Linked DNA regions of Homo sapiens: region 2 is linked to region 1. Evidence: fine-mapped expression QTL. Tissue or cell type: whole blood. Region 1 holds a variant in brackets; the other region holds the start of a gene. All regions are shown on one strand. Distances are between the middles of the regions.

What was found. PIP is the estimated chance that this variant, and not a neighbour inherited with it, causes the effect. A credible set is the group of variants that fine-mapping cannot tell apart.
Region 2: it holds the start of SLC20A2, and the variant in region 1 is the best candidate, but not a certain one, in a credible set for the expression of SLC20A2 in whole blood (TOPMed, PIP 0.82).

The regions. Positions count from the first base shown.
Region 1 is chr8:42,733,311-42,744,120 of GRCh38, forward strand. CHRNB3 (cholinergic receptor nicotinic beta 3 subunit) reads left to right here. Exons shown (of 6, transcript NM_000749.5): 6 at 3,174-4,097. The coding sequence ends at 3,308. Among named protein-coding and RNA genes, the nearest start is that of CHRNA6, 30 kb to the right of the region's middle. RefSeq lists enhancers at 8,445-8,634, 8,805-8,874. The variant A/G (reference allele first, on the strand shown) is at 3,689.
Region 2 is chr8:42,496,387-42,507,196 of GRCh38, forward strand. It overlaps SLC20A2 (solute carrier family 20 member 2), which reads right to left and starts at 4,845. Exons shown (of 11, transcript NM_001257180.2): 1 at 4,645-4,845. RefSeq lists an enhancer at 5,752-6,951.

The DNA.
Region 1 (10,810 bases):
AGATAAAAGAGAAGGAGAAAGAAAAGAAGTAGCGTGGGAAGAGTGTGAATTTCAGACTGAAAACAGTCCTGGGTTCAGATCATAATCTGAATGACTTAAGACAAGTTACTTAACCTGAGCCTCAGTTTTCTGAATCCTACCTTGAAAAGTTTGTGTGAGGATTAAATGACATAAAATACAAACATGCACAGTGTACCCAGCACACAGGGGCTCAGCTCCGTTGTATAAGCAGTCAACAAGTGTGAATTCTCGCCTTTCTAATTATCATCCTCATCCTTCTTCTTTTTTTTTTTTTTTTTTTTTGAGAGGAGTCTTGCTGTCACCCAGGTTGGAGTGCGGTGGTGTGATCTCAGCTTACTGCAACCTCCGCCTGCTGGGTTCAAGCGATTCTGCTGTCTCAGCCTCCCAAGTAGCTGGGACTACAGGTACACACCACCACACCTGGCTAATTTTTCTTGAATTTTCATTAGAGATGGGGTTTTGCCATGTTGGCCAGAATGGTCTCGAACTCCTGACCTCGGGTGATCCACTGCCTCAGCCTCCCAAAGTGCTGGGATTACAGGCATGAGCCACCGTGACCAGCCCATTCTTCTAAACAGTCCTTCCCCAGTGGAATGAAAATATTATTTGACGTGCAGATATTAAGCGTAAAAAGTGATCTGTTGGGCCAGGCACGGTGGCTCATGCCTGTAATCCCAGCACTTTGGGAGGCCAAGGTGAGTGGATCACGAGGTCAACAGATCAAGACCATCCTGGCCAACGTGGTGAAACCTGATCTCTACTAAAAATACAAAAATTAGCCAGGCGTGGTGGTGGGAGCCTGTAGTCCCAGCTACTTGGGAGGCTGAGGCAGGAGAATCACTTAAACCTGGGAGGCAGAGGTTGCAGTGAGCTGAGAGTGCACCACTGCACTCCACTCCAGCCTGGCGACAGAGCGAGACTCCATCTCAAAAAAAAAAAAAAAAAAAAAAAAGTGATCTGTTGCCTAAAGCAAGTTACATATTTTCAATTTATATGAGAACTTCAATTTATAGGGTTCAAATATTTTACTCTAAAATTGATGAAAATTAGTGCCAAGAGCCTGATCCCGTAAACAAACTGATGAAAGAATTTTTTTTTTTTTTTTTGAGATGGAGTCTCGCTCTGTCACCGAGGCTGTAGTGCAATAGCTCGATCTCAGCTCACTGCAAGCTCCACCTTCCGGGTTCGTGCCATTCTCTAGCCTCAGCCTCCCGAGTAGCTGGGACTACAGGCACCCGCCACCACGCCTGGCCAATTTTTTGTGTTTTTAGTAGAGACAGGGTTTCACTGTGTTAACCAGGATGGTGTCGATTTCCTGACCTCGTGATCCGCCCACCTCGGCCTCCCAAAGTGCTGGGATTACAGGCCTGAGCCACTGCACCTGGCCAAGAATTTTTTTTAGAAATATCCTTCTACATTTTCTCTTGCGTTCACAGACACTGCCTCATATGTCCTCTCTCTTAACAATCTGTCATGTTTTTCATCCACTTAAAATTGTTTTTAAAAGCACTAGAAAAGTGACTGCTGCTAGACAAGAAACATTCAGCTGTCAAGTTGGGAGAATTTTTTTGTTTGTTTCTTAACATCTTTTAAAAACACTAATACAGGGCCAGGCGCGGTAGCTCACGCCTGTAATCCCAGCACTTTGGGAGGCCGAGGCGGGCGGATCACGAGGTCAGGAGACGGAGACCATCCTGGCTAACAGGGTGAAACCCTGTCTCTACAAAAAATACAAAAAATTAGCCGGGCGTGGTGGCCGGCGCCTGTAGTCCCAGCTACTCGGGAGGCTGAGGCAGGAGAATGGTGTGAACCCGGGAGACGGAGCTTGCAGTGAGCCAAGATCATGCCACTGCACTCCAGCCTGGGCGACAGAGCAAGACTCCGTCTCAAAAAACAAACAAACAAACAAAAAAACACTAATACAGGCCGGGTGTGGTGGCTCACGCCTGTAATCCTAGAACTTTGGGAGGCCGAGGCGGGTGGATCACCTGAGGTCAGCAGCTCGAGACCAGCCTGGCTAACACGTTGAAACCCTGTCTCTACTAAAAATACAAAAATTAGCTGGGCATGGTGACGAGTGCCTGTAATCCCAGTTACTCGGGAGGCTGAGGCAGGAGAACCACTTAAACCCAGGAGGTGGAGGTTGCAGTGAGCCAAGATTGCACCACTGCAGCCTGGGTGGCAGAGTGAGACTATGTCTCAAAAAAGCAAAACAAAACAAAACAAAACAAAAACCTAATACAAAGATTTCTTTTTTTTCCCCAAGACGGAGGACATTTATTTACTCTAGAGGGATGAGGACTCCCCTTCCTTTCAGACTTCCCCAGCCAGTCGTGCCTTGACTTTGTGTTTATGGACCTGTTGCCCACTCTCTGCACCTCCCCTTCCTAATAAAGGGGACTCAGTTTCTTGTCTCCTTCATGAATTCCTGTCTTGTCCTGGTCGGTTCTTCTCCTTGGCAGCACCCTTCCTTCTGGAGCTGCAGCACAGGTGGAGTGGAAGAAAAGAAAGCCTGTGACATTTGGCCACAAAAACTCTTAAATTATAAACTTGTGATTCTTTTCATACGTGTATCAGGAAGCACCCTAGTAAGATATACTGGCTTCCTAAGATATGCTCTGTCTCCTGGGTTCAAGCAATTCTCCTGCCTCAGCCTCCCAAGTAGCTGAGATTACAGGTGCCCGCCACCATGCCCAGCTAATTTTTGTATTTTTAGTAGAGAGGGAGTTTCACCATGTTGGCCAGCTCGTCTCGAACTCCTGACCTCAGGTGATCCCCCCACCCCCAGGCCTCCCAAAGTGCTGGGATTACAGGCGTGAGCCACCGCACCTGGCCTATAGTGGCTCTTTATTCATGTAAAAATCAGACTTTTCCTATTCTGATCAGGAATGTTGACATATGCATACAGAATTCTATTGTTTCTATTTTCCTTCTTCAGTGCTGATGAGAGTGTTCCAAGCTGCTTCTTTTGGGCACAATTAGCGAAGTCCCTGAAAGAACCTGAGCCTGTAGTGTGGTTGGGACATTAGATGCATTTTGAAAACTTAAGTAAATGCTATAAATCTGAATGTTACTCTTTTTTAATCCCTTGAGATGAATACAGAACAGTTGCTCAGTGTCTTGAGTGAAAGGCATCTTTTTCTCTTTTGCAGGTAGTACAAGACTGGAAATTTGTAGCTCAAGTTCTTGACCGAATCTTCCTGTGGCTCTTTCTGATAGTGTCAGTAACAGGCTCGGTTCTGATTTTTACCCCTGCTTTGAAGATGTGGCTACATAGTTACCATTAGGAATTTAAAAGACATAAGACTAAATTACACCTTAGACCTGACATCTGGCTATCACACAGACAGAATCCAAATGCATGTGCTTGTTCTACGAACCCCGAATGCGTTGTCTTTGTGGAAATGGAACATCTCCTCATGGGAGAAACTCTGGTAAATGTGCTCATTTGTGGTTGCCATGAGAGTGAGCTGCTTTTAAAGAAAGTGGAGCCTCCTCAGACCCCTGCCTTGGCTTTCCCAGACATTCAGGGAGGGATCATAGGTCCAGGCTTGAGCTCACATGTGGCCAGAGTGCACAAAAAGCTGTTGCTACTTGGTGGAGGAACACCTCCTAGAAGCAGCAGGCCTCGGTGGTGGGGGAGGGGGGATTCACCTGGAATTAAGGA[A/G]GTCTCGGTGTCGAGCTATCTGTGTGGGCAGAGCCTGGATCTCCCACCCTGCACTGGCCTCCTTGGTGGTTTTGTCTGAGCTGCAAACTGGGGCCGTGTTATGCTTGTTAGCAATGGGCCAGGCAAATCTCAACAAGGGTTTGGGGATTACACTGGCAGGATAGCTGGCACTGCACACTTAACAATAACACAGATTCCAAGTTGCCTGGCCTACCGAAGCAGGTGTTATTCATGGTTTATTCCCAGCATGATAAGGCTTTCAGATGGTGAAACTGGAGCCCACTGTGAGCTGTGACTTCCTTTAAGGTCATGCATACCAAAATAACTCACAATAGAAACAAAGCCCTTTGCTACCAGAAGTGGATTCATTAATACCCATTATCTTTTCCTAGTAAACTAGTGTACAGAACATTCTCTGATTAATGGTTTTTGATGTCACCTCGTCTAATCGGATCCATACCAACACTATCCCCTAGGCTCCACCTGCTGTTTCCCTGTCTCCTGGCACCTGGGTGGGCTTCACCCCCACCCACCATCATTCCTTCTCTAAGACTCCGAGGGGAGTCTGCTCAGGTTCTTCTTGCCCTCCAAAATTGCTGCCTCTGCCCAATCCTTCCTGAATTTTAGCTTAAAGCAATTTTTCTCTCTGCCCAGTTATAAATCCAAATCCCTTTCTGGAGTACTTTTAGGCATGGCTCTTGCAAGCAGTTTGCAATCTAGGCTGGGTGGAGTGGCTCACACCCATAATCCTAGCACTTTGGGAGGTCAAATCAGGAGGATTGCTTGAGGCCAGGAGTTTGAGACCAGCCTGCTCTCTACAGCAAGACCCTGTCTCTACAAAAAATTTAAAAAATTAAAATTTTAACAATTTTAGTGATGTGTGCCTACAGTCTCAGTTACTCAGGAGGCTGAAATGGGAGGATCACTTGAACCCAGTAGTTGGAGGCTGCAGTGAGCCATGATTGCTCCACTGCACTCCAGCCTGGGCGACAGAGCAAGACGCAGTCTCTTAAAAAAAAATCTAAGTGGCTGGGCGTAGTGGCTCACGCCTGTAATCCCAGCACTTTGGGAGGCCAAGGTGGATGGATCGCAAGGTCAGGAGATCGAGACCATCCTGGCTAACACAGTGAAACCCCATCTCTACTAAAAATACAAAAAATTAGCCAGGTCCATGCCTATACTCCCATCTACTTGAGAGGCTGAGGCAGGAGAATCACTTGAACCCGGGAGGCAGAGCTTGCAATGAGCCGAGATTGCGTCACTGCACTCCAGCCTAGGCAACAGAACAAGATTCCATTTAAAAAAAAAAAAATCTAAGCATGAAACACCTTCACATATTGTTACCACTGATGTATTTCGTCTTATTAATGCCATTTAGTTTGTGCTTTCTGTATAACATTCTCTTGTTCCTTCACCTTTTTCCCTTCACCTTTTCCCCCACTTTTTCAGCCTTGGCCGAGTTTGTAGTTTGTCCATTCCTTCTTTGCCTTTAATGGCTTGAAAGTTACATGTCCGCTTCTATTAATTTATTAATAAACATTCAACTTTTTAAATCAATGTTGAGAATTAGTGTTTGTGGCTGCCACTTTCTACACAAAATAATTTCTTTAGGACCCTCACTTCCCCTCACCTTCATTTCACTTTTATCACTTTCCACATTTTCTTTAAATCATCCAGAATTTTAGTTCTACATGATTAATTTTTATATTATGTGTTCCTTTCCCTAAGAACCATGTATTCACCACACATTTTGTCCATAACCACATGACAAACAATTTCATTTATTTGTTCATCACTGTTTTTTATCTTAAGCATTCCTCTTTTCCTGCTTCATTTCTTCCATTATTTCAGAAGAGCATGTCTTCAAGTAATTCTTTCAGGAAATATTTGAGTGTGGTAACCTTCTTGAACCCTTGCTTTTCTGAAATTGTAATTTATTTTGCCTTCACATTTAAATAATGGATTGGCTGGGTGTGGAATTCTGGTTCAAAATCATTTTCCCTCGGAGCTTTGAAAACATTATTGTATAATATCCCGTGCTCTAGATGGGAAGCATGCTGGGGTTGATTATTATTCCTCACTCGATAGGTCCCTCTAGGGTTTCAGTTTCCCAGTCAGTAATAAGAAGTATCGACGAAAAGAGTCAAACTCTGCAAAATATTTGAGGAGATGTATTCTGAGCCAAATATGAGTGATCATGACCTGTGACACAGCCCTCAGGAGATCCTGAGGACATGTGCCTAAGGTGGTCAGGGCACAGCCTAGTTTTATACATTAGGGAGACAGGAGACATCAATCAAATACATGTAAGGTTTACAGTGGTTCTTTTTTTTTTTTTTTTTTTTTTGAGATGAAGTCTCGCTCTGTCACCCAGGCTGGAGTGCAGTGGCTCCATCTCGGCTCACTGCAAGCTCCGCCTCCCGGGTTCACGCCATTCTCCTGCCTCAGCCTCCGTAGTAGCTGGGACTACAGGCGCCTGCCAGCATGCCCAGCTAATTTTTTGTATTTTTAGTAGAGATGGGGTTTCACCGTGTTAGCCAGGATGGTCTCAATCTCCTGACCTCGTGATCTGCCCACCTTGGCCTCCCAAAGTGCTGGAATTACAGTCGTGAGCCACCGCGCCCGGTCTACAATGGTTCTATCTGGAAGGGCAGGACAACTCAAAGCAGGGGGGTTGGAGGGGGTTTCCAAGTCATAGGTAGATTTTAAAATTTTCTGATTAGCAATTGGTTGAAATAGTTATTATCAATAGAAAGGAGTGTCTGGTTGACAATGAGGGGTTGTGGAGATCAAGGTTTTATCATGCAGATGAAGCCTCCAAGTAGCAGGCTTCAGAGAGAAGAGATTGCAAATGTTCCTTATCAGACTTCTGATCAGTGTTGATGTTAATTCTGGTTGGCTTTTCCTGAATTCCAAAAAGGAGGAGGGTATAGTGAGGCATGTCTGAGCCCCACTTCCATCATGGCCTGAATAGGTTTTTCAGATTAATTTTGGGCTGCCCTGGCCAAAAGGAGGGGACCATTCAGATGGTTGGGAGGCCTTAGAATTTTAGTTTTGGTTTATAGGAGTTATGATTCATGCATGACCTTTGAAGCTCTCCCCTGCTCTAAATTTCTATATTTTGGATAATTTTACTGGAGCTTTCACAGTTTTTAAACCACACAACTCAGTGTAACTTTGTTCCTTTGGGAAAATTGAACCTGCTTTATCAGTACTTCAGGATGGGATTTGCAGGAATACATTGTGATGAAAATCAAGGATTCTTTGCCTTAAATTATTGATGGGATTGTGGATTCAAAGGGCAAGCCACTATTCCTCTCCTTTTTATTGAGAATACTATTGACTTTAACACACCACTTAACTTTAACTCTTAGTTTGCTAGGTAAATGATGTCAATCTAAAATAATCAAAAGGGTCAGAATCTAGTTTAAGCAGTTTATTCAAGTGCAAAGTTTGAGGACAACCCTCCCAGGAACCACAGATTCCAAAGAATGGAAGTCAGCGTTCCAAAGTTAGAAATTTGGGATCACTTTTATAGACAAAGCTTAGGGAAGTTTAACAGAATTTTAGCCTCTTTCTATATAAGGCTTAATGCATAGTCACAATGTTCTCATTAGTCAAGGTGGTTCTTTTCTTTTGGAAAAGGTATATTTAACATTCTACACTGAAGATGGAACTGTCATGGGGTCCCCGTTTGGGACACCATCTGGCCTGAGTTAGGTACAGGATAACAAAGGAGGCAGTTAATCTATCACAATGATCAGTGTTTGGAAGAGGGAGGTCTGGTCTTTCCTAGTTAATGACAGAACAAGGACAATGAGAAAGAGAGTTAAGCTATAATCTAAGAAACAGACGTGACAACAACATGCCATATAACTCAGATCACAGCCACATCTCTCTCAAAGCTTAAAGCGTTTGGGGGTTTCCAACAGCTTTTAAGTTTTATTTATTTTCACAATGATTATACTAATTTCAGAAAAATGTGTTTAGATATGAATTCAGTTTCAAAGTTTGAAAAAATGCCAGTATGAGCCGGGGGGGTGGCTCATGCCTGTAATTCCAGCCACATGGAAGGCTGAAACAGGAGGTTCACTTGAGCCCAGGAGTTGAAAGTTTCAGTGACCTATGATTGTGCTGCTGCACTCCAGCCAGGAGCGGCAGAGTGAGCCCTCATGTCTAAAGCAAAAACAAAACAAAGTTAAAGGAAAAAAAAAAAGGAAATACCAGCATGAAACACCTTCTACAGGAAGCTTCTTACTGATCAGACACAGATTCAGAAAAGATTAAGCCTTCACATGTGTACATGTAGCCAAGGTGGGAGATAATAACAGCTTCAAACACAGAAAAGAACAAGTATTTATATAACATAATAATCCTAAGGAAGTAACCACAAATGATCACTCTAAGGCAAAGAAATTTTAATTCCAAATGTATAGCAAGAAAAATCTATGTGCAAAATCTGCCAATTAATCCAAGAAGTGGAAGTTGCAAGAACGATTTCTCTCTGTATCACACTGCAGCAGGATGAGCCGCAGACAAAACCTCTCAGACACCGAGATGTAGAAGCAAAGGCTTTATTCAGCTGGGAGCATCGGCAAGCTACTGCCTTAAAATCCAAGCTCCCCGAGTGCACAATTTCTGTCCCTTTTAAAGGCTCACAACACTAAAGATTTCACGTGAAAGGGTCATGATTGATTTGAGCAAGCAAGGGGTACGTGACAGGGGCTGCATGCACTGGTGGTCAGAGAGAAACAGAACAGGGCAGGGAGTTTCACAGCGTTCTTCTATACAATGTCTGGAATCTATGAATAACATCGGTTTCTAAATTATGAGTTGATTTTTAACTACTGGGTTTAGGCCAGGCAGGCCCAGGCCTAGTTTCAGGCCTGGCGCCAGGCTGCCTGTCTTTGGTTTTACTTCCTTGTTGTTTTTTTTTTAAAACAGGTACTGAGTATAAAACAATGTGAGAGGATCTCTCTCTTCCCTCAACACGTGTGAGTGTGGGACACACGTGTGCAGGCACACACACGGGGGGCCACAGAGAGCTGTCCACATTATGTGCAGCCTTCAGATTTCTGCTCACACACCCCCGCCACTGCTCCTCCTGAAGCCTTCATAGAACACATGGCCCCCACTGGGCTCCCTGTGTTGGAAAGCCAGTGGCATTTCCAGTGTATGCTGTATGGTTTAGAATATCATTTCTATTATTAAGTGAACCTCATTTTCTTAGCTATACCAGTATATTCTCCATCATACCCCCAACAATATCTAATAGAGCGTAGTCCACAGTCAAGGCTTACTTGATATTTGTTGATTAATTAAACCAGATACCAGGAATTTTGGATGAAGTTGTCTAAAATGGGGACAAATGTGTACTCTTGCTCAGCCCCTCCAAATATTTCTAGCTCTGTGTGTGTAATTTTCAGTATTCTCCTTAGAAAAACATTTTCTTACATTAAAACAATCTCCAAAATACTATTATCATACTTAGCAAAATTAGTAATTCTACATTCAAGTTCCCTGCCTCAAAAATATCCCAATTTGATATTTAGCTTGTCTCAAATAGGATTTGACCCAAGACCATTTGTTATGCCTGTTAAATCTTTTTTTTTTTTTTTTTTGAGACGGAGTCTTGCTCTGTCGCCCAGGCTGGCACGATCTTAGCTCACTGCAAGCTTTGCCTCCCGGGTTCATGCTATTCTCCCGCCTCAGCCTCCCGAGTAGCTGGGACTACAGGCACCTACCACCACGCCCAGCTAATTTTGTTTTTGTATTTTTAGTAGAGATGGGGTTTCACTGTGTTAGCCAGGATGGTCTCGATCTCCTGACCTTGTGATCTGCCCACCTCAGCCTCCCAAAGTGCTGGGATTACAGGTGTGATCTTAAATCTATTTTAATCTCTTTCTTGGCACTGATTTGTTGAAAGGACCAGATCCGTTTTCCCCAAGTATATCTCCCTATTTGGAGTTTGTCTGGTTGCTTGCTTCTGGTGGCATTTACCTTATTCCTTTGTCTCCTGTATTTTCCTGTAAACTGAAAGTTACATCTGTATCCCTAAACATATTTCCCCTGGGACAGAGTCTCACTCTGTCACCAGGCTGCAGTGCAGTGGCATGATCTCGGCTCACTGAAACCTCCACCTCCCAGGTTCAAGCAATTCTCCTGCCTCAGTCTCTTGAGTAGCTGGGATTATAGGCTTGTGCCACCACGCCAGGCTAATTTTTGTATTTTGAGTAGATATGGGGTTTCCCCATATTGGCCAGCTGATCTTGAACTCCTGGCCTGAAGCAGTCCTCCCCCCTCAGCCTCTCAAAGAGCTGGGATTACAGGCATGAGCTACCGCACCCAGCTCAATCTTTTTGTTAGGGATGTGCTATAGATGATAACATGGTGTTCATATTATACCATAGTGAGGAGGGAGGCTACTTGGCTATCTGATCATTAGAGTTAAGATTAATCCCTAGATTAAGGTAATGCAAGTCTGATCTCTCCACTGTATCCAGTGGTAAATCTTGTGGTCTAGCCTGAGGCCACAACACACAGCAAGGTTACAAAAACTCTTAGCTATGATCTTGGTCCCTTTGGAGATGGTGTATAGCCAGCCAACATTGGAACATAGTAATTTCCAGAGAGTAACATTCTTATGTTGGAATGGACCTTTCGGTTGTGTCAAAATTCTTTCTCTGAAGCACCTACTGTTATCTACTTAAATTAATTCATTTAATTAACACAGTGATTACCATATATGTTTAACCTGACATGTATTTCTTCTTTGTATTAAAACTTTCTGTTCAGTATGTCAATCAAGTACCAGTGACCATAAAAGTAACACTATGTCACTGGCTCATGGACATAATCTTGGGTTTGGGAAAACTAGGTGAGAGCAGCAATCCGTGCCCAGATGTGGACTGTCACCCCTCCAGGCAGTGTTGATGGCCATGGGACAGGGCAGCCCGGCCTGCTGTGGAATTAGACATGCTCGTCTGAATGCTCAAGGACAGTCTCAGCTCTGGGCATCAAGAGGAGAGTCAGCCAGGCCAGAAGATCACAGTGTTCAAAAGGAAACAATAGAAGGATGAAAACTGTGACATTAACTCAGGCAAACTTAAAGAAACAGCCCTG
Region 2 (10,810 bases), 240 kb before region 1:
GGCACAGGCATAACTAAATTCAGATGCATTTCTATTACGTGCAAATAAAGGTGGGTGGAAGAGAGAGCAGAGAGATGAATAGGGGACTCCTAGGAGTAACTGTTTTGATTGGGAAAGGTGAGAATGGCCACCTTCCTGACTCTAGAGAACTCATTACAGAGGAGAAGGCAGAGCACTTACTTGTGGCCTTAGCCATTCCAATGGAATTAGAATTTATTTGTATTAAGTCCATCCTATGTGTGCCCCTGGGCTATTTGTTGTAGATACAAAAATGTTGTGATAAAATGTGTCCCTCTCCTCTATCTCTAGTGAGAGCTGACACACAGATAATACATTCCACTGTGCTTGGATTCGTTAGGGCCTTCTATGTTGCTTCCTGCTCCTAGGGTGTAGTGGGTAGGGTCCAACTTTCCTTGCAGCCCCCTCTCTTCTGAAATGGGCTGTGTGAAGACAGGGACGGACCAACCTGGCCACAGTCTGTGATGTAAAGTGCTCATGAGCCAACAATAAGCTCCCCACCCCCCATATGGGCTACACGCTACCTCTGCCCAGATCCCCTGCAGGTGGCTGTGAGGTCACATGGGGAGGAGAGTCTGGTAACACTGATAAAATACAGTAGATCCATATGCTAACACAATATTATTCTCACATTATCTCAGGTGAGCCTCATTTGAGAGGAACACTGTCTTAGCTCAGAAAAGTAATTGCAAAATTTTCCTGGTTAATTATTAATCTTCTCTAAGTGACAAAAGGAAATCCAGAGCAAAGTCAGGGCTGGAAGGGACTTTGAGAGGTCATTTATCTCCTGACTTTAGAGAGTACATTGAAAACACTGCAAACAAATATAATCCCATGTTTAGATGACTTCAGGAAAAAGGGTTACATTTTTTGGCATCCAGATTGCCCATTTTATAATACCCTCCATCTTTGCATCTCATCCAGCAGACCTCAAATGTCAACGTGCACCAGAATCACTTGGGAGATTTTTTAAACACAGGCTGCTGGCCCTACCCCATGTTTTCTGATTCAGCAGGGCCTGGGTGGGGCCTGAGAATCTGCATTTCTCACATGTTTCCAGGCGGTGCTGACGCTGAAGAAACAGGGTCCCCACTGTCGGCACCTCTGTTCCAGCCCAACCCTTGCTGGACCTGACCCTTTTATTCTAGATGGAAATAGATACCAGTGGGTCACCATTCTTTGCCACTGAGACACACATATACTTGAAGAACAATTCAAGAGTCTCCCGGTCATTTGTTTCCTCTTCCAGGCTAAATAATAGAAGTTCCCTACCCTCTTATCATAGGTATCATTTTCCAACCCTCAATTGGTTTTTTTTTTTTTTTTGAGGTTCTTTGTGGAGCCAAGTCTCTTTGTTGTGGAGCCATGAACTAGACCCAGAACCTTAGAGACTGGCTGAGGTTGGGCACGGGGGGAGGGACTCACAGACTCACAGAACCACGCAGGCCGCTCATGTTATTACTCCCCAGTACCCAAGCCTTCCTATCAGCCCTTCTTCTGATTCATGTGCTTCTAACTCCTTTACAAGCTGCAATAATGCTCAGTAGACCTTCATAATGCCTTTCCTCTGAGAAGCTGAAGGCATTTCCCTAACTAATATTACAGTTGACTCAATATCCTAAACCAGTGCAGGGTTAAGTAACTTGTTGAATTGCAAACCAGTTCAGGAAGGGAGAATCTGGAACTCCAGATTTCTATCTAAATATCATTTTATGGAGAAAGATGCTTTGATATTTATTGCACTTTATAACAAGTTTACCCCCTCCACATAATAATAATAGTTTTAGGTGCAAGTGAAACTGTGAAGCTTCTCCTCTTTGTAGGAGGATTGCAACAGAGGACTGAGAGTGGGGGGCAAGGCTTCTGGGGTCAGTCTTGTCACTTGTCCCCATCACTTCCCAGCTATGGAGGAGAAAGGGAAGGCACAGCCCAGGTGGCACAGCTGTCTGTCCTAATCGTCTTTGGCAAAAGCTCAGAGGAGCTGAATGCTGAAGTATCCTCAACCCACCCCACTCATCTTGTTTCCCTTTTCTTCATTTTCACATTTTTTTTTCTGCCAGTGTAGTTACTGAATGTCAGGGGGCCCAGTTTCTGTGTCCTGCCTTGTTGTAGCATGTGGGTTGGAACTATGCTTTCCTTGTGCACCGCATGTGCTGTGGGGTGCTTAATACATGCTAAATAATGACAGCAGTACCCCGTATGCCCGAGAAATCAGCCTTCCTCCTGAGGGCCATATCCCATTATGTTACACTTGTTTTTAAGACGGACGGAAGCTGAAGGCATCCCTCCTGCTCACTGCTCCTTCCACTTTAGATGAACAGCTGGAACTCACATAACACAGCCTCTTCCGACAAGATTTCCTTTAGAGAGAGAACATTCTAGGGATGTGATCACTGAGCATCCGGGCTCCAAGCCGAAAGGCAACCTGTTACATAGCGCAGTTCCCATTTAGCCATGCAGGCAAGAGACCCATTAAAACCTCATGTGAGGGAAGAGGTCCCAGAGAAAAGGTTCCTCTCTGCGTCCCTGAGAAACCCCTCAAAGCTTCTGAGCAGAAGGCTATCCCTCTAGGCAGAAAGTAACAGTGAAATAAATCTGCAACCGGCAGCGATTCTGTCAGAGCCTCTGGGTCTGTAACTATTTTAAGACGTGGAGGAGTAGGATGAGAGCACGGGCAGCTGGACAGAGTGGCTCCAACAGGACTGCAGGGGAGACGTGCGGTCACCTGCGGCGTGGGAACAGCAGGGCAAGGGCAGGCGGGCTCGGCTCCTGGACTCCTCCTGCGGCCACAAAGCTGCCCTGTTTCTCCGCACCTGGACCCCCAGTGTGTGACTCTGCATAGAGCTCATCATGATTTGTCGCCCAAGGTCATAACCAGTCACAGCCAGCATCATTTCACCAGGCACACGGGGTAGAAGCAGCGAAGAGAATCGCAGCACCGGCAAACACGAGGAATTCCGGCACTAACACTTATATAATGAAAACCTTCTCCGCTCTCACTCACCGCTGCCACTCTCTCACAGCACGTAAATCATTAAAACGAACACTCCTCAAGTGTTTATGCGCATTTTAGCAACTCATCATAAAGCACATGCTTCCTAGTAGTAGAAAAACCTACAGAAACGTCTGTGAAATTAAACAATGGATAAATTCGAATCAGCTTTTCTCTTTTGCAGGACTAAGAACTACAATAGGTCAAGTGAATACTGGTGTGAAAACTAATACCCAACTACAGTGTACCTTTAAAAATGCTCCACTGAGATTCTGATGGTGCCTTATTAACAATTAGAAGTAAGAAGTAATAGCAATAAGTCAGAATTTTTTGGATAAAAATATATATTATGAAGGATTACCGGAGCAAAACCCCTTTTACTGCTGAAGATGACATTAGAGGCTTCTGTTATCATTATAATTCATCTGGGCAGCAAATTTCTCTTCAGCTCAATAAAAACTAAGTATGAAGTAAGTTTCTTTCTAAAAATAGCCCAAGAACTCAGTACTACTTTCCTTTCTTACACTCTTTTCCTACTAAATGGAACACTGAAGTATTTCCTTTCATTGTTGACACTTTATGTCATTTGCATTTAAAATCAGACAATACATAATAACAAAGAAGTCTTTAACTAAATCTTTTCAAAATGGGAAAATGGCTTTCACAATACTAACTGTGGACCTGCCTCCTTCCTTGCTCTAGAGATGACAGGCATAGATAGCTGGTGAGCACCTATCCTATCGCCTAGGAGAACTGTTTTATTAATAACAATATTCCTAAAGCTGATACATTTACTTGCTAATTGATAAAGAAATTCCTGCCTGGTTCTCTGCTGTAAGCAAACTGTTTGGCTTGAGGTCAGTCCACATTGAAAACACACTTCTAAATAAGCAAGATGATTCAAATTTAATTTAAAATATTCAATATCAAAATCTTTTGTTTTCTTCAGTACAAATTTAAGTTGGTAATAATGTGTTAGATGAACTGCAGTTAAGGTTACAGAATCCCATGGCCTTTGGTTACTTTTGATAACTAACTCAGTCTAAAAGAGGATGCTTTAAATTATTCTCTAAAACCTTCTTCCTAAATTAATTTTTTAAAGTGCTTCTCTTTAGGCATATATGGGTTTATTTTTTAAGCACAAAATCCCCCTTAAAAGGATAAAAAACTGTCCATCTATACATTCAAGAAAATTACATTTGACACTCCATTATTTCTACAAAATAAACTTGTAGCACAGAGTATAACAGGAATTAACTTTCAACATTTTTTTCTCAAGAATTAGGTTACCATAGTAGAAAACAAAGCTCAATGACACAATACAATGTTTCTGTATTTACAGAAACCATATCCATTAATCAAATATTTTAACATAAAATAATAATCTACAGATTGCTTTTGCAAAAATAAGTAAGAATCGAAAACTTTTTCTTGGGCAAATTGAATAAGGCAGATTTATTGCAGTAGGAGACATTTAAAGAAAAACCTTTTGCCACCTCTCTTAGCTTTCTCTAACGTACCAACCTGAAAGCTTCCAGTTTTCCCAAGAGATAAACATTACTATGACGGTAACATTAGGAAGATTTAAGGAGAAAAGAACAAAGAGAAGTCTTAAAATTCCACCCAGTACTTACAAGTAGTTTCCAAGAAAACTGAGCCACAATTCTTCAGAAGACTGCTCTCCTGATCACAAACACAATCTGAAGTCTAAAATAGATATCCTACCACATTAGGCCGAGAAGTCACATTTCAGCTTGCTAACTTCTACTTTTACAACTCATAGAACTAACCCCGGCTAAAATTAACTGCAGCCAAGCAGCAGGCAGGAACACGCTGATTTGCATCATGTGTGCCGGGATTTATTCACTAGGACAACATCGGTGTCCTCTTAATGGGAAATGCGGCCAAGGGGCGTGCCCTGGTGAACAATACATAGCATCATGATTATGCTAATTACTGAATTCAGTCCAATAATACTAACTTCTTTTAAGTTGTTTTTGCAAGTACTGACAAAGAGAAGGAGTAAGCTTTTTCCCAACAGGCATTCACTTGATTTTTAAGCACATTCAAATCAGACCAAACTTTGGCAACAAGGTGGCAGTGCTGTGTGCTCTTCACAAGCAAAAGCAAAGCAAAAGGACATTCTGTCCGATTATTTAAACAGCGTGATTAGATGCAGCACTACGTGAAATTAAATAGACACAGAATATACATATCAGTAAGTCTATCCACCAGAATCCTGAAATAAAAGCTTTTTCTTTCTCTATAATGAACTGATTGCAGGGACTTGCTTTCTGGCTCTGCCTCCTCCTGCACCTCCCAAGGAGTCGCTATGAAGACACAGATTCAGTAATAAATCACAACTGAGAATAAACATCTCAAATATTTGCAAAGGCATTGTCCTTGGCAAGAAGCATTTTAAGGTGGATTTAACTCCTTGGCTAGAAAAATTGTCCTCTGTAGGTGACTGACCATCTACAAAGCATGTTGGAACTCAAGTTAACAGGTAAAGACCCCAAACATACAGCTGACACTTAAAAGAAAATCAGAACATGAAAAACTTTCTCTCGAAAATATAAGTACAACTTATAACAAAGACACAAAACCGCTTAGTATCTACTCAAGACGGTTTGGGACTAGTTTGCTTTAGACTAAGTTCTGATGACATATTTTGCTCTTATTGAACACTCTATGAAAGATATCAAAGCACTTTACAAACATCAATCAAATCTCCAAGCATCTTTGGGAGATGTCATTTTCCTCTTTTTTTTTTTTTCCCACAGACAGGTAAAAGACAGGGTAATTCCATTTCAACGACTTCAACCAACCCTGGATCACCCCATCTCCTCCTGAGACCTTTATAACATCTTCCGTATTAACCACTTACCTATAATCCTATAGACCTTTTCAGAGCCATTTGTTTTCCTCATTTTAAAATGTCATATGTTAGTTTGGACTTCAGGAGATTCACTCTACTTAACACCCAGATGCCAGGCCTGAACCCCAGGGGCTTAAAAAGCCCTCCTTGACTCTCTCTTGCAGACAGGTATCCTGCAACATGGATCCCTAAAACATGGCGATGCCCTCAGGAGGCACTGTCCATCTGCAGCCTGCTGCCCAAAGCACAAACCGGTTGATCTTCATTGGTGTGAGTTGGACATCACCAGCACAATCTCCCTCCTGTTGTTTACAAACACTGCTGGCTGCTGATCTGAGATTGCATCCCCTCGGCCTAACCTGAGGCTCTGTGCCAGCACCTGCCCCACCTCTGCAAGAGGGTGGCTGGTATGCATTCCCCTTCACTCCAACCCAGAGTCATGGGAGGCAGGCATTTCCTGCTCTGTGCTGAAAGGAGAGAAGTCAGCACTCATCAAAGATGGCTAGCTGCTAATGAACAGAATTATTCTCAATAATCCACTGCAAACTCACTCCAGAAGTCTTAATGCCAAAAAGGACCTTGTAAGGCTATTTTTGACACGATATTCTCATCCTATTATGTCATAGTTCAGGACAAAAGTCTCTAAGCCAAAATATTATTTCTGCCCTAAACCAGAAAGTAAGAAAAAGCAAATACACCAAGTGCATTTCTGCATCAGAGTTTGTATTGGAAAGGAGCAATCTGATGTATGATGGATCCTACATCCATTCATTGGAAGGCAGGGGCCCCTGAGCAATGCTCCGGTTCCTCACATGTCAGATATGCCTAGTATGACTCTGCTGTTTCAACAGCAGCCACACCTGTTCCACAGTGGAAGAACCAAAGCATTCCAAATAAAAGAGTCTCCTCCAATTTACATTAGTCATTCTGCTGCTTCCTTTTCATTAGTGAAACTACTTGAGTCAACAGTGCTTTTGTTCTAGGTATACTTATGACAGTAGATAAAAATCTGTATCAGAGTACCTTGAAAAGCAGAGTAAATTCTTCCCATTTGTTCTCATTAATTTTTGGTGGTAGAGGAGGGACAGGGAAGGCGGTGACCTATGGGATCTTTAGTTCAACGAATCCATGAAATTAAAGAAAATTACTATGTTTATGAATGTCCACTAATGAATGAACCCAGATACCAACCTTCTATGAGCAGTTACATGTATAATTTAAAATTTTCTAGTAGCTGCTTTTAGAAAAGTAACAATAAAGAGGTAAAATTAATTTAATAATATATTTTAACTCAATATATCCAAGATATGATCATTTTAATGTGTAATAATCATAAAAACTATTAATGAGATATCTTCATTCTTTTGTTTGTACTGCCCCAAGCCTGTGCAATCCAGTGCGTATTTTACAATTAGTACATTCCAATCTGGACAATCCACATTTCCAGTGCTCAGTACCCACATGTGCCTGGTGACTATCATAGTGGAAAGCCAGAGTGTACAAATATCTTCCTGACAACAGCTTTTCTACAACATGTACTAATATTTACATGTTTCTGGGCATGTGCACACTTATATACACTCAAGAAACATCAACTAAATACTGGGCATATAGGATGAAAAACGCCTAGTTTTTGTCCTCAAGGAGCTCAAAGTTTAGATACTTGGCATCCTTTGTTTTTTAGAGCTAGGGTCTCATTCTGTCACCCAGGCTGAAGTGCAGTGGCACAATCATGGCTCACTGCAGCCTTCACCTCCTGAGCTCAAGCAATCCACCCACCTCAGCCTCCTGAGTAGCTGGGACTACAGGCACGTGCCAGCACACCTGGCTAATTTTAAAATTTTTTTGTAGAGAGGAGGTCTCACCATGTTGCCCAGGCCAGCCTCGAACTCCTGGGCTCAAGTGATTCTTCCACCTCAGCCTCCCAAAGCACTGGGATCACAGGCATGAACTACTGCCCCTGGCTTCTTGGCATTCTTTACCTTTGAAATAATATGCAAAATATTCTGTGTTCTCTGTGTGTATTCTTCTGGGGAGATAACTTTCTTCATCACTTTATTAAAGGAGTCTGTGTCTCAAAAAGGTTAAGAGCCAGGAGACTAGACTAGTAGCAGATGCTGGGAGAAATGGAGAGCTAAGGAAAATGAAGGAACTGAGACAGATAGAAGGGGAAAGATCCGAGGAGAAAGAAAGACTAAAAGGAAGATAAATAAACAAAAAAGAGAGAAGAAGAATTTCATTGCTAGACATGAAATTTTAGTTATAAAATCATATAATAAAAATTGGTGGCCAGGCGTGGTGGCTCACGCCTGTAATCCCAGCACTGTGGGAGGCCGAGGTGGGTGGATCACGAGGTCAGGAGTTCAAGACCAGCCTGACCAACATGCTGAAACCCTGTCTCTACTAAAAATACAAAAAAAATTAGCCAGGCATGGTGGCGCACGCCTGTAGTCCCAGCTACTCAGGAGACTGAGGCAGGAGAATCCACTTGAACTTGGGAGGCAGAGGCTGCAGTGAGCCAAGATCATGCCACTGCCAAGATCACACCAGCCTGGGCAACAAAGCAAGACTCCGTCTCAAAAAAAAAAAAAAAAAAAAAAAAAAAAAAAAAAGGCATGTTCCAGTTACTATGCCAGGTACTGGGGACAGATACAGAGATGAAAGACAAGGTCTCTATGTCCAGGGAGTTCACATTTTAGTGACAGGAACAGACTCACCCAGGCAGATACAATACTTGGGTAAGTATGAAGACGCAGTTTATGTGCAATGTGCTATGGCTACAGCGGGGAGAGGAAGGAGGGTGCCACACAAGAGGGACGCAATACCCCCCCAACCTTTTTTTTTTTTTAATTGAGAAGATGTCTCACTCTGTCGCCCAGCCTGGAGTGCAGTGACACAATCTTGGTTCACTGCAACCTCCACCTCCCAGGCTCAAGCGATCCTCCCACCTTAGCCTCCCAAGTAGCTGGGACTATAGGTGTGCACCACCACACCTGGCTAATTTTTATATTTTTTGTAGAGATGGAGTTTTGCTATGTTGCCCTGGCTGGTCTCAAGCTCATAATAGGATAGTAAATAAATAGGCTGGGCTCAAGCAATCCACCCAACTCGGCCTCCCAAAGTGCTGGGATTACAGGCGTGAGCCACCATGCCTGACCCCTCATTTCTTAAATGAAGGTTATTTTCTGATCAAATTTTAAATCTATGTTCTGGAATAACTCAAGATTCTGCATTTTAGTTTGGAACCTTAGAAAAGCATGGATAGGTCATGGAGAAATCAGGTATTCTAAAATATTTTAAAATGACATCTGGAAATAGCAGTGAAGTTTCTATTCTGAGCTATTTATCATCAAATTGAACCTGGTTATTTGATCCAACTATTTAAGGTTGAGGCAGGAGGATCACTTGAGGTCAGGAGTTTGAGACCAGCCTGGCTAATGTAGCGAAACCCCGTCTCTACAAAAAACTTAGCCGGGCACGGTCACACATACCTGTAGTCCCAGCTACTTGGGAGGCTGAGGCATGAGAATCAGTTGAACCTGGGAGGCGGGGGTTGCAGTGAGCTGAGATCACGCCACCACTCCAGCCTGGATGACAGAGTGAGACTCTATCTCAAAGAAAAAAAAAAGCCATCAAAAAATGAACATTGAAGAAAAAACTCTTCAACTCGTTAAGAATTCTCTGTATTTTATTTATTTATTTTGAGACAAAGTCTCTGTCACAGTAGTGCAATCTCGGCTCACTGCAACGTCCGCCTCCTGTGTTCAAGGATTCTCCTGCCTCAGCCTCCTGAGCAGCTGGGATTATAGGTGTGTGCCACCACGACCAGCTGATTTTTGTATTTTTAGTAGAGACGGGGTTTCGCCATGTTGGCCAGGCTGGTCTCAAACTCCTGACCTCAGGCATCCATCCACCTTGGCCTCCCGAAGTACTGGGATAATAGGTGTGAACCACTGTGCCTGGCCCACGTTAGGAATTCTTTGGATTGTAGCTGTGGACTCAGAAAGACCTGGGTTCAAAGTGTACCCCACGACCTACTAGCTGTCTGACCTCGAGCAATTGAGCTCACCTCTGTGACTTGGCTTCCTCGCCTGTAAAATGGGGATAATGTTGCTGACATCAAGGGTTGGTGTTGGAAGGAAGTGAGATGTATCTAGCACAGGCACACAAAGAGTCTCATAAACGGCCGGGGCCATTATGCTCACAGCAGGTCTAGCAGCAGTATGGTACTTGCTGAAGGGCAATTTGGGATATTTACTGAGTGCGGATTAAAGGCTCCCTGTTTTTATAGCATGAAGCTTCTTCAAAAAATAAAATGTTGAAAGGAATTTCAAATGGTCGTTAAGTATTTCAGGAAAACCAGGGTTTGTAAACTCCTTTGGAAAACTCTGTAGCTGCGCCAGCCTGTTTAATTTTCTCCGTGATATGGTCTCATGTCCCCAGCCAGAGGTTAGCACAGGATTCAGGGTCACTGACTGAAGAACACAGGCGAATCATGTGTCTGGGCAGATGGCTGCTGTAAAGTCCCCCTATTCCTTCCTTACCCTAGGGAGTCCCTTCCTGCACTGACTCTGGGCTTGGCCAGTAGGACAACAGCAAACATAATGCTGGGCCCTGGAAAGTGCTGGTGCATGGGGGCTCACCCTCTCTTGCAACTTCGAAATGCCCGCCCTGGCTTGCCTACTACAAATGAGAAGGCCACATGGAGTGGGGATGCACCATCACTGCTGAGTCCCTGCCACTGGTCAGCCCGCTGAGCACCTGATGGGTGGGTCAGGCCATCGTAAACCACACAGCCAGCCAGCTGCCAGCTGACTGCAAAGTCCAGCCAGGCTTGCTCAAGTCAGAACCACTCCGGTGCCCTACAGAACTGTGAGGTACAGAAAGAAATGTTTGTTTTTTTGAGCCACTAGTATCAGGTG